Linked DNA regions of Homo sapiens: region 1 is linked to region 2. Evidence: fine-mapped expression QTL. A gene starts in region 2. The other region holds a variant in brackets. All regions are shown on one strand. Distances are between the middles of the regions.

The links. PIP is the estimated chance that this variant, and not a neighbour inherited with it, causes the effect.
Region 1: its variant is the best candidate, but not a certain one, in a credible set for the expression of MAP7D3 in monocytes (TOPMed, PIP 0.76).

What each region holds. Positions count from the first base shown.
Region 1 is chrX:136,214,558-136,219,935 of GRCh38, reverse strand. MAP7D3 (MAP7 domain containing 3) reads left to right here. Exons shown (of 19, transcript NM_024597.4): 17 at 265-343; 18 at 441-538; 19 at 1,443-3,122. The coding sequence ends at 506. Among named protein-coding and RNA genes, the nearest start is that of FHL1, 20 kb to the right of the region's middle. RefSeq lists a silencer at 5,132-5,378. The variant G/T (reference allele first, on the strand shown) is at 2,237.
Region 2 is chrX:136,248,974-136,254,351 of GRCh38, reverse strand. MAP7D3 (MAP7 domain containing 3) reads left to right here and starts at 2,952. Exons shown (of 19, transcript NM_024597.4): 1 at 2,952-3,063. The coding sequence starts at 2,994. RefSeq lists a silencer at 2,846-3,235.

The sequences.
Region 1 (5,378 bases), 34 kb after region 2:
AGGGGCATGGTTTCTGGAGTCCTGCGTGCTTAGCTGCTCCTACTCCTGGTGCTTCCGTGGGACCTAGGGCTTTCTGGAATACAGTTTGAAAATCAGTGTGTCCTGTGATCTCTAGGGTTCCTTTCAGTCATCCTGTTCTATGATTCTGAAATGTTTTTTAATTCCAAGGCATTTCTTAGAAGTTAATTAAAGGACAAAGCTTCTTTTAGGCCAGAGCCTTGGTTTGGGAATAATTGGGATTCTAACCAAACTGTCTCTTTCCAGACCATCTTCCAAAAGAATGACCAGTCACACAACGAAAACCAGAAAGGCGGATGAAACCAACACCACCAGCAGATCCTCTGTTAGTATGAATTATGAGCAGCAGCGTATCTGTGACAAGATCACCAACATTGTTTAAGTCACACAGAACTATCTTTGTCACATTTTTCTCCTGACAGGCACAAACAAAATCTGAAGGATTCCATGACATCTTGCCAAAGTCCTCAGACACCTTTAGACAATAAGAGAAGAAGCAAACCTGTTTCTCCTCATTTGGGTAAGTCCTCATCTCATCTACCTTTTTCTTGAAAGGCAATTGACCCTGAACCCGCTCCCCTCCTTCTAGCCATTCCAGGGCAGTCTTTGCACCATATAGCTTTGGAAGAGAAGGAGAAGACAGTTGTGGGTCTGCAGGAATGATGTGAGAGTCTTCCATTAAGTTGGTTTTGAGAAAGTAGAGAGTAGATGACTTGATTCTAATTTTTATGTACCACATTTCAGGCCGGATATAAAAAATAAGTTCTGGCCAGGTGCAGTGGCTTACGCCTGTAATCCCAGCACTTTGGGAGGCCAAGGCGGGCAGATCACTTGAGGTCAGGAGTTTGAGACCAGCCTGGCCAACATGGTGAAACCCTGTCTCTACTAAAAATACAAAAATTAGCCGGGTGTGGTAATGCATGCCTGTAATCCCGGCTACTTTGGAGGCTGAGGCAGGAGAATCACTTGAACCCAGGAGGCGGAGGTTGCAGTGAGCCGAGATCCTGCCACTGCACTCTAGCCTGGGTGACAGAACAAGACTCTGTCTCAAAAAAAAAAATGATCTTTTCAAGCTTGCATCTCAGACTCCTCTGAGCTCCTGGTCTGCTGGTTGCTTGGCAAGCACACAGACAGTTGCTTAGGGCAGAAGATTAGGGAGGTCTTCGGAATAAGCCTCAACCTGTTTCCAAAACCAGAAGCCTCTTGTTTTTCTTTCCTTGAGAAGTTCTCTTTGAAATTGAGAAGCACCTTGGGCCTGGTTGGGGACTGGGGAAGTGAAGGACATTTATAGGACCAGTGTGTCAGCAACTCCAGAGGGGCTGCTGAGAGTCCTGGGCGTGTGCCCTGAAGGGAGGCCAGGGACAAGTTGCTGTGAGACTAGCATCTTCTCTACTGATCTTTCTTTTACTTTTCCCTCTGGTCAGATATGTAAACCTTACTCAGCCTGGGAGATGAATACATCTTCCACTCTGGATAACTCAACTCCTGGGCCCATCAGTCCTCAAATTTTTCTGCTTCTGACTTGAACCTGGTAAAGGAAGTGACACCGAAAAATTGAAAGAAACTGTCAAAAGGCCACTTTGATGTATATCTCAGATGTTAAAGTCATCTTATTCTCTTGTGTCTAAGCAAGAGTTCTAAGTAAAGAGTGGTTTTTGTTTTCTTTGGAAAATCATCATTGTCTCTCATTCTTGTGTTGTCCCACCAATGTGTTTGCTGGAGTGAGTGCATCAAGGATGCTTTCCTGAAACTGTAACTGTGGAGTTTCTAGAAGAATCTGATTGCAGAACTAATTCTCTTTCAGTATATATTTGAAATCTTAAAGTAATGCTTTTTCTTTTTCTTTTTCTTTTTTTTTTTTTTGAGACGGAGTCTTGCCCTGTCGCCCAGGCTGCAGTGCAGTGGCACAATCTCGGCTCACTGCAACCTCCGCCTCCTCATCTCAAGCAATTCTCCTGTCTCAGCCTCCCCAGTAGCTGGGATTACAGGCATGTGCCACCACACCTGGCTAATTTTTTTGTATTTTAGTAGAGATAGGGTTTTACCATGTTCACCAGGCTAGTCTCGAAATCCTGGCCTCAAGAGATCCACCCGTCTTGGCCTCCCAAAGTGTTGGGATTACAGGTGTGAGCCACTGCACCCAGCCAAGTAATGCTTTTTCTGTGTACCAGTGACAATTTTGACAGCTAAAAACTCACAGTTGATCTTGTAGAGAACA[G/T]AATAGATTATGCAAGGGCCGCAGGATCGCTCACAAGAGCTGTCAGATTGTTTCTAATATAAAAATACCAAAGGTTGCAAAATCCAGCAAATTGTATTTTACTGTGATATATGTATATTTTTAACTCTACCCATCTGTGCCAGTGAGTACACAGGCACTAATAACCTGAAATGCTGGGAGTCCTGTAAAGCCCCATCTTGGAACAGTCAGCACCTTTCATGCTCTTGTCAGTGTTTCCTTTTGAAGGACATATTGGTGTTTATCTACAGAAACATATATTATTTTTATTGTGTACATAAAGGAGTATATGGCTGTTGTCCCGTGGGGTATGTTTAATTCCTCTAAATGTTTAAAGTACTTTTCTGCCTGTACTCTCCAGTTCTGTCGTTGAGTATACACTCAGGCTTGAGATACAACCAAAATTTGCTTGCCTTTCTCTAGCCACTGGCTGCCAGTGAGTTCGTGTGATGGGCACACAGAAATGCACACAGATGTACATACACGTATGTATGCACACACAGTATATGATTCCATAAAATTCAAATGCAGATTAATTCTCCTAATGAGTTTTCAGTGTTGAATCGTAAATAGTCTGAAGCAGGCCAGTGTTCCTTTTGGCTGCCAGTCTTGGATTAGTAAAAGGAGGTAATTCTTTCAGATTCCCTGGTTCTTTGCCACTCAGAGTATTGTACTTTTGATATAGAATAGAGAAGGTTACCTTTGGTTTAAAAACTATTTTTATATACTAGCTCTTTCATGTATAAAACAGAGACAATCATCCTAACAAAAGAGTTCCTGTTATTTTTCTGCACAAATGTCTTGTGTTGAAACACTGTTACAGTTCCATATAAATGTGTGCTATATAAAATAAACTTTGGAGATAAAACAAGGGTTTTTTCATTATAATACTAAAAAAAGTGTACTGGTGGTGGTATAAAGGCAACACCAATTGTTGGCTGAGCTATGAACACAGGCAGCCAGCAAATTGAATGAACAGGGATCAAATCCCCTGATTTCCCTCTTCATCCAGTTGGTGATTTGGCAGAGTTCCACTTCTGGAATAGAAAGATGTGAGTTTTTTTGTTTGTTTGTTTGTTTTAGAGACAAGGTCTCACTCTGTGGCCAAGGCTGGAGTACAGTGGCACGATCATAGCTCACTGCAGCCTCAAACTCTGAGGTTCATGCAATCCTCCCACCTTAGCCTCCTGAGTAGCTGGGACCACAGTCATGGCACCATACCTGGCTTTTTTTTTTTTCTCTTCGTCTTCTTTCTTCTTTCTTCTTTCTTCTTCTTCTTCTTTCTTCTTCTCTTTTTTTCTTTTTTTTTTTTTTTTTTTTTTAGAGATAGGGTCTTGCTATGTTGCCTAGGCTGGTCTTGCACTCCTGGCCTCAAGTGATCTTCCTGCCTCAGCCTCCAAAAGTGCTGGGATTACAGGCATGAGCCACCACACCCAGCCTAGATGTGAGTTTTCAAGCTCTGGTTGTCTTCCTGCAACTATTTCAGTGCTTGTTACTCTTCCCTGTGATGGTTCTGTTGTATAAGTTGAGGCTTATTACTGCAGTATCTTTTGATTTTTTTAAAAAAAATATTTTGTTTTTTCTTTCTTGCCCTGGTTTATGGTGCTGATCTTGCTTTTTTTAATCCCAATAAAAATCATATAACCTAAAAGTAACCATTTTAAAGTGTATATTCACAAGGCTGTGCAGCTATCCCCACTGTCTAGTTCTGGAACATTTTCATCACCCTGAAAAGAAAATCTGTGTCCTTTAAGCAGTCACTCCCCTTTCCCTCCTCCCCTTGCCCCTTTAATTCTCACATTCAGTGCTCACCTTGGATGAGGAAAACCCTCTTGCTTTGAAAAGTCTGGGCAGTTAATTGTGCTCTTTTATACTCATCTCTTAATGACATCACTGTTACTGTGAGTGGCAAAACAAATGTTCTGATCTGCCTGTGAGTGTTTAGTTTCCAATCTTAAGTCATGCTTTACTCCAGCAGTCCCCAACCTTTTTGGCACCAGGAACTGGTTTTGTGGAAGACAAATTTTCCATGAACCTTTGGTGGGGATGGTGTGGTGGTTTTAGGATGACTCAAGTGCATTACATTTATTGTGCACTTCATTTCTATTATTACATTGTAATATATAATGAAGTAATTATACAACTCACCATAATGTAGAATCAGTGGGAGCCCTGAGCTTGTTTTCCTGCAACTAGACGGTCCCATCTGGGGGTGATGGGAGACAGTGACAGACCGTCAGACATTAGACTCTCATGAGAAGCACACAACCTAGATCCCTCACATGCGTGGTTCACAATAGGGTTCTCACTTCTATGAGAATCTAATGCCACCACTGCTCTGACAGGAGGCCGAGCTCAGGCAACAATGCAAGTGATGGGGAGCCACAGTAAATACAGATGAAGATTTGCTCTCCTGCCACTCACCTCCTGCTCTGTGACCCAGTTCCTAACAGGTCACAGACCAGCACCAGTCCGTGGCCCAAGGGTTGGGGACCTCTGCTTTACTAGGTTTTGTTTTTGATAAGGCAAGGTCCTTGTTTATCCCAAGTCTTTGGGGTCTGGTGCTTATGAGAATGGTGGTAGCCATTCCCCACTGAACATGCTAGAGCATTCTATATACTTTTAAATCAGCACGAACTAGACACATCCCATTCCTGTCAAATTCCAGAAATCCCATTCCTCCTTGTGTCTCATCTGAGCTGGAAACTCTTCACTGCCAAGTCTGGCGCCAGGTCCTGTTGATCCATCCATTGAAACTGTCTACCAGGATGTTCCTGTTTACAAGGCCAAGGTGATGGACACTGACCTAGCTTTCCCCTCACGCATTGCTGCCTCGCATTTCCCTTCCTGGTATCCTCTACCCGGAGGGACAGACCCCTGGCCTCTACCAGCAGATTCTGCAGATCAGCGCATTTTCTACGCCTGTGTCATTGTGGACACTGCATGTGGAATGAAGTTTTTTAACAGCTCCAATCCCTAAAAACCACAAGAATGCAGTGTGAAATACCATAAAGAATGCCAGACAGGCCCCTGAAGACCTGAACCCAGCTGAGAGGGCTGCTAGCTCACGTGTGACATTGTGCACGTTGTTGCTCTTCTCTGATCCCTGTTCCTTGTCTGTCAA
Region 2 (5,378 bases):
GCACTCTGGGATGCCAAGGAGGGTGAATCACTTGACCTCAGGAGTTGGAGACTAGACTGGTCAACATGGCAAAACCCCGTCTCTACTAAAAATACAAAAATTAGCCGGGCGTGGGGGTGCAGGTCTGTAATTCCTGCTACTTGGGAGGCTGAGGCAGGAGAATCGCTTGAACCCAGGAGGCGGAGGTTGCAGTGAGCCAGGACTGTACCACTGCACTCCAGCCTGGGTGATAGAGTGAGACTCCATCTCAAAAAATAAAGAAAAAATTATCTAACTTCTTATTTGGAAAAACCTCAAATCTTTACCCCTACATTCTTCAATATTTATGTCTTTTTTTGTGTTCGTGAGACAAAGTCTCATTCTGTCTCCCAGGCTGGAGTGCAGCAGGCAATCTCAGCTCACTGCAACCTCCGCCTCCTGGGTTCAAGCGATTCTCTTGCCTTAGCCTCCCGAGTAGCTGGAATTACAGGCATGTGCCACTACACCCAGGTAATTTTTGGGTTTTTGTCTTGTGTTTTTATTTTTTTCTAGAGATGGTGTTTCGCCATGTTGGGCCAGGCTGGTCTGGAACTCCTGAGCTCAAGCAATGTGCCGGCCTCAGCCTCCCAAAGTGCTGGGATTACAGGCGTGACTATTTATTTCTTAAGAAGAAGTGCATTTTCCTAGGTGACTACAACATCATTCCCACACCCAAGAAATTTGACCTTGATACAATATCATGTACCATACAGTTCATATTCAAATTTTCTAATTATGCCAGTAACGTATGCCCTTTCAAGCTTCTTTTAAAAATTAGGGTTGTAATCAAGGATCATACATTGCATGTGGTCTCTTTAGCCTCCTGTGATCTGGAACACTTCTCTGATTTTTGTTGTTAGTCTTTCATGACACTAATATTTTGAAGCATTGGGGCCAGTTATTTTGTGGACTATATCACAGTCTCTATCTCTGTCTGAATGTTTCTTCATTATTAGATTTGGGTTCAACATTTTTGCAAGAAACTACAAAGCTGATGTGTTTTGCTAAATTTTCTGTTTGCGGAGTTCCAGATAAGGTCATGAAAGCTGAACTTGTGTTTGTGTATGTGTGTGTGTTTTGTGGGCACCCTAATCATATGTGTGTCGTATTAATAATCATGAATGGCTACCATCCTGGATATCATGCAAAGCATTGGTCTCTGTATTTACTTAGAAGCAGAGCTTCGGGAGTTATAATGCCAAACTGTTTATTTTTGCCACTAGTTTTTTTTTTCTTCGAGACAGAGTCTCGCTCTGTTGCCCAGGCTGGAGTGCAGTGGCAGCTCTCGGCTCACTGCAACCTCCACCTCCCGGGTTCAAGCGATTCTCCTGCCTCAGCCTCCCGAGCAGCTGGGATTACAGGGGCCCGCCACGACGCCCAGCTAATTTTTGTATTTTTACTAGAGACGGGGTTTCCCCATGCTGGCCAGGCTGATCTTGAACTCCTGACTTCAGGTTATCCACCTGCCTGGGCCTCCCAAAGTGCTGGGGCTGGGATTACAGGTGTGAACCACCGTGCCTGGCCCCCCACTTGTATTAATCTACATCATCGCAAACACTTATTGACCACGTTTTAATTTTTGTTAAAATTGTAGGTGCAACGTAATGTCTTTTTTTTCTTTTTCTTTTCTTTTCTTTTTTTTTTTTTTTTTTTTTTTGAGACAGAGTCTCGCTCTGTCACCCAGGCTGGAGTGCAGTGGTGCTATCATGGCTCACTGCAAACTCCACCTCCCGGGTTCAAGCGATTCTCCTGCCTCAGCCTCCCAAGTAGCTGGGATTACAGGCACCCACCACCATGCCCGGCTAATTTTTGTATTTTTAGTAGAGTCGGAGTTTCACCATGTTGGCCAGGCTAGTCTCGAACTCCTGACCTCAAATGATCCACCCACCTCAGCCTCCCAAAATGCTAGGATTACAGGCATGAGCCACCGTGCCTGCCCCATATTACATATTATATATATTATATATTAATATATGTAACTTATGCTATCATTGCTAACATATGTAATATATGCTATTATTAGCTTCTTCCATTTTACAGCTCCCATGTCATTTGGAGACTCAGTGGTCTCGCCAAAGTGCCCATCTCACAAGTGGTCCAGCCCCATTTTGGGATCTCCTGCACCACACTTAATGGCCCCAACCATAAACTGCGTGCCTACAACTATGTCACTACACACACACTCACAACAGTGGTGACTCCACCTCATAAGGGCAAGCCCCCATGAAGTGAGGTCTGCCCCTTAAAGGAGCCTCAGGCCAATGACGGTTTTCCTTGTGAATGGGAAAAACATTCTGCAACCTGGTAGAGTCTCTCCCAAAATCCGGAGAGATTGATGCCAATAAGTCCTCTGCCTCTCTTTGAAGACTCACAAACATCTTAAAGATATTTCACCCAACTTTGAGACCTATGTGTCATGATTTATTGTGCAACAGTTTAGGGAAGCCTACTCATGATGGGGCCCCTAGCACCTCAAAGCAAGCCTGCGACTCCCAACCTCTCCCTAGGCTTCTTCCCCCAACTTGGGTCTTTCTTTGTGTAATGTTTCAAGGACTAGTAAACTCATGATACAAGCGCACCCAGGAGGCACGCCGTAAATGTTCTTTAAATGAATGAATGAATGAGGAAGGAATGTTACTGTGTTGCTAGGTAAAGGTGAAGAAAGGAATGTTGGGGGGGCCAAGCTGGGTGCTGATTGGCTAGTCCTCACAATGCAGTAGGGGCAGAGCACGGAACATAGGAGAGGGTTTCTTTAGACCAGGTAGTCGCTGCCCAGCCGGTCAGGACGTGGGACGCAAGGGGCAATCCTGCCCGGTTCGCAGGTCCGAGGCGGGCGCGGTGGCCCTTCGGGCCCCGCCCCGCCCCGCCCCGCCCCGCCCCGCCCACCGGCAGCCCGGCCACGACCCAAGCGGAGGCCGCGCCGACGCCTGCGCAATGTATGCGGAGAGCCACCACCGCCTCCGGTCCCGACTCCGATGATGGCGGACGGCGCCGCAGCTGGCGCTGGCGGCAGCCCATCCTTGAGAGAGCTGCGGGCACGGATGGGTGAGCGGGCGGGTGGCTCCCGGGGGTGGTTCGGGCCCGCGTGGGAGGCAGGGTTCCCGCAGTCCCCGGGCCGTCGGAGCGGCGCAGCGGGCGCCACAAAACTTTTCCCTGGAGTCGCCTCGTGCTATCTGGTCCTCCCCTCACCCCCGCCGGAGTGCCCTGGGATGGGACAGGGGCGGGGGCGGGGGGTTGAAATTGTCAGCCGACGCCGCGAGCCGCCTGAGTCCCGCCGCCAACGGTCGAACTGCCGCTGCCAACGGTCTGAGCCCCGCGGACGCGGCGCGAGGCAACTCACGGGCTCTGCTTCGACGGGCGGGGCGGGGGCGGCTGGAAGCCGGACCCCGCGGACCGCCCCGTGCCCCATCTGCCCTTGGGGGGCGGTGGCCGCCCGCGCAACCGCCCCAACGAACGCACAGCTGCCTGGGATGTGCGGGCGCCCGCAGGGACTCCGCGCGCCGGCGCCGCCTCCGCCGCCAGGCAGCCTTTCCAGGCACGGAAAGTTTGAGTTATCCCCCAGCCCGGGTCGTGGGCGAGTTTAGGCGCTTTTACTGTCGCAGTCCTTGCCTCTCCCAAAGGCTTACCTCCTGCACCCTCCCGGTCAAGGTCCAGGGAGGAAGCTGGGTGAGGGTGGGGATGCTTAAAAGTTGCTTTAAAAGTTGGGATGAAACTTGGCTCTTTGCATCTCCTGATTTGCCTGCTGTAGCACATGACTTCAACAAGATGTCATCTTCTGTGGGACATCTTGCAGTCTCTAGGCTGAACTGAACGGGAATCAGCACTTCAGAGTGCTTTTTCCTCAACTAGTCCCATCGCCAAAACGTTTTTCCCTCCTCGAAAACCGTTAATCTTATACAATTTGACAGCACATTGCTTGGTCCAGGAGACTGCTCCACTACCTGAGATAGGATTTCTTCCTTTCAGGAGGTTGCTTTTAGCCTGTTAGACTAGTTCCCTCTGCTATGAGCGCGAATAAAACGATTTTATTAATTTTAATTGAATTTCTTAGGGGTTTTTTTGCATTTGCAATTAAAAAGTTAGATTGTTTACGATTGGGAAGCTATATGTTACTTGAGAAGACTTTGAATCAGCTCTCCAAAGACTGTGTCAGAAGCATATACTACATACACTTTCACCATTCATTAGGGAGAAAAGAATCTTCCTTCCGTGTCTATACTTATGGTTCACCTAGAAAGACAGTCTCCAATAAATTGTGTTGCTTATTGGTACCTGTGGCTCTCAGGCACTGGTTTATTTCAGTGATTTAGATTAACCAGCATTACTCCAATATGGTGAAGAAGCTGTGAACCGGATAAACCCCTAAAAGCATTTGTATATCAGATGTTGGAAAGTGTTTTAAAATTATATATGGGACAGATACTGGAATTCACAGCATTTCAAACCAAAAACTTAAGAGCCATGTAAAAGTCTTAACCTAGGACCCTGGTTTAAAACCTTGCTGCCCACTTCATGTTAGGAATTGTAAATATCGCATGTTAGACTTTTTTCACAGAGCACCAACTTGACCAGAACTGCCCTTTAGATCTCAGCGTTTTCCTGAAGGGGTCAAGGAGACAGATGTTTTTGCTAAAATGTTGTTTTCATCTTCTGCTGGCAGTCTGGCAGCAAGAGTTAAAACTGTCTTGAATACATAACATATAAATGCATAGCACAGTCAAAATACATTTATTTTATACATTTATGTATGCATGCAATAGATACATGTATATATATATGTGTTACATATAAAGTGTAAATATATATTTGTTGAGTGATGTTTTCTGTGCATAGCACTGTGCTGAGGTTGTAGCATACCAAATATTTAACAAAACACGTGTTTATATTTTTATGCAGAATTGTTTTAAAATAAAAATTTATTTGAATATTTCAACCAGATGAGCATAAGAAACTTGCCACTGACGTATCACCTTTCCCTTCTTGTTTTTCTAAATTCACCAGTGTTTCTCAGTTTAGAATAACTTTTTCAAAGAATAATTTCTACCAATGCAGAAAAAGCTACGGAGATTGACAGCTAGATTATCATAGAATTTTAGAGTTGGAGAAACCTTAAGATGATCTTGTCAGGCATCCAGAGTCCCAGCTGTAAAATCCTGGGGCACTTCTGCCACTTGAATGGGCACTCTCATGAGGAGCTTAATATTTTTCCAAGTAGCCATTCCATTGTAGACAGCTCTAAATGGTAGAAAATTGTCTCCAGTTTTGTCTTCAAGACATGCTATCTTTGGTTTGAACTTGGAGGTCTTCTGAAAGTCTCAGCCCTATGACTTTGGCTTTTGCTATTTGAGGCAAAATTCTGT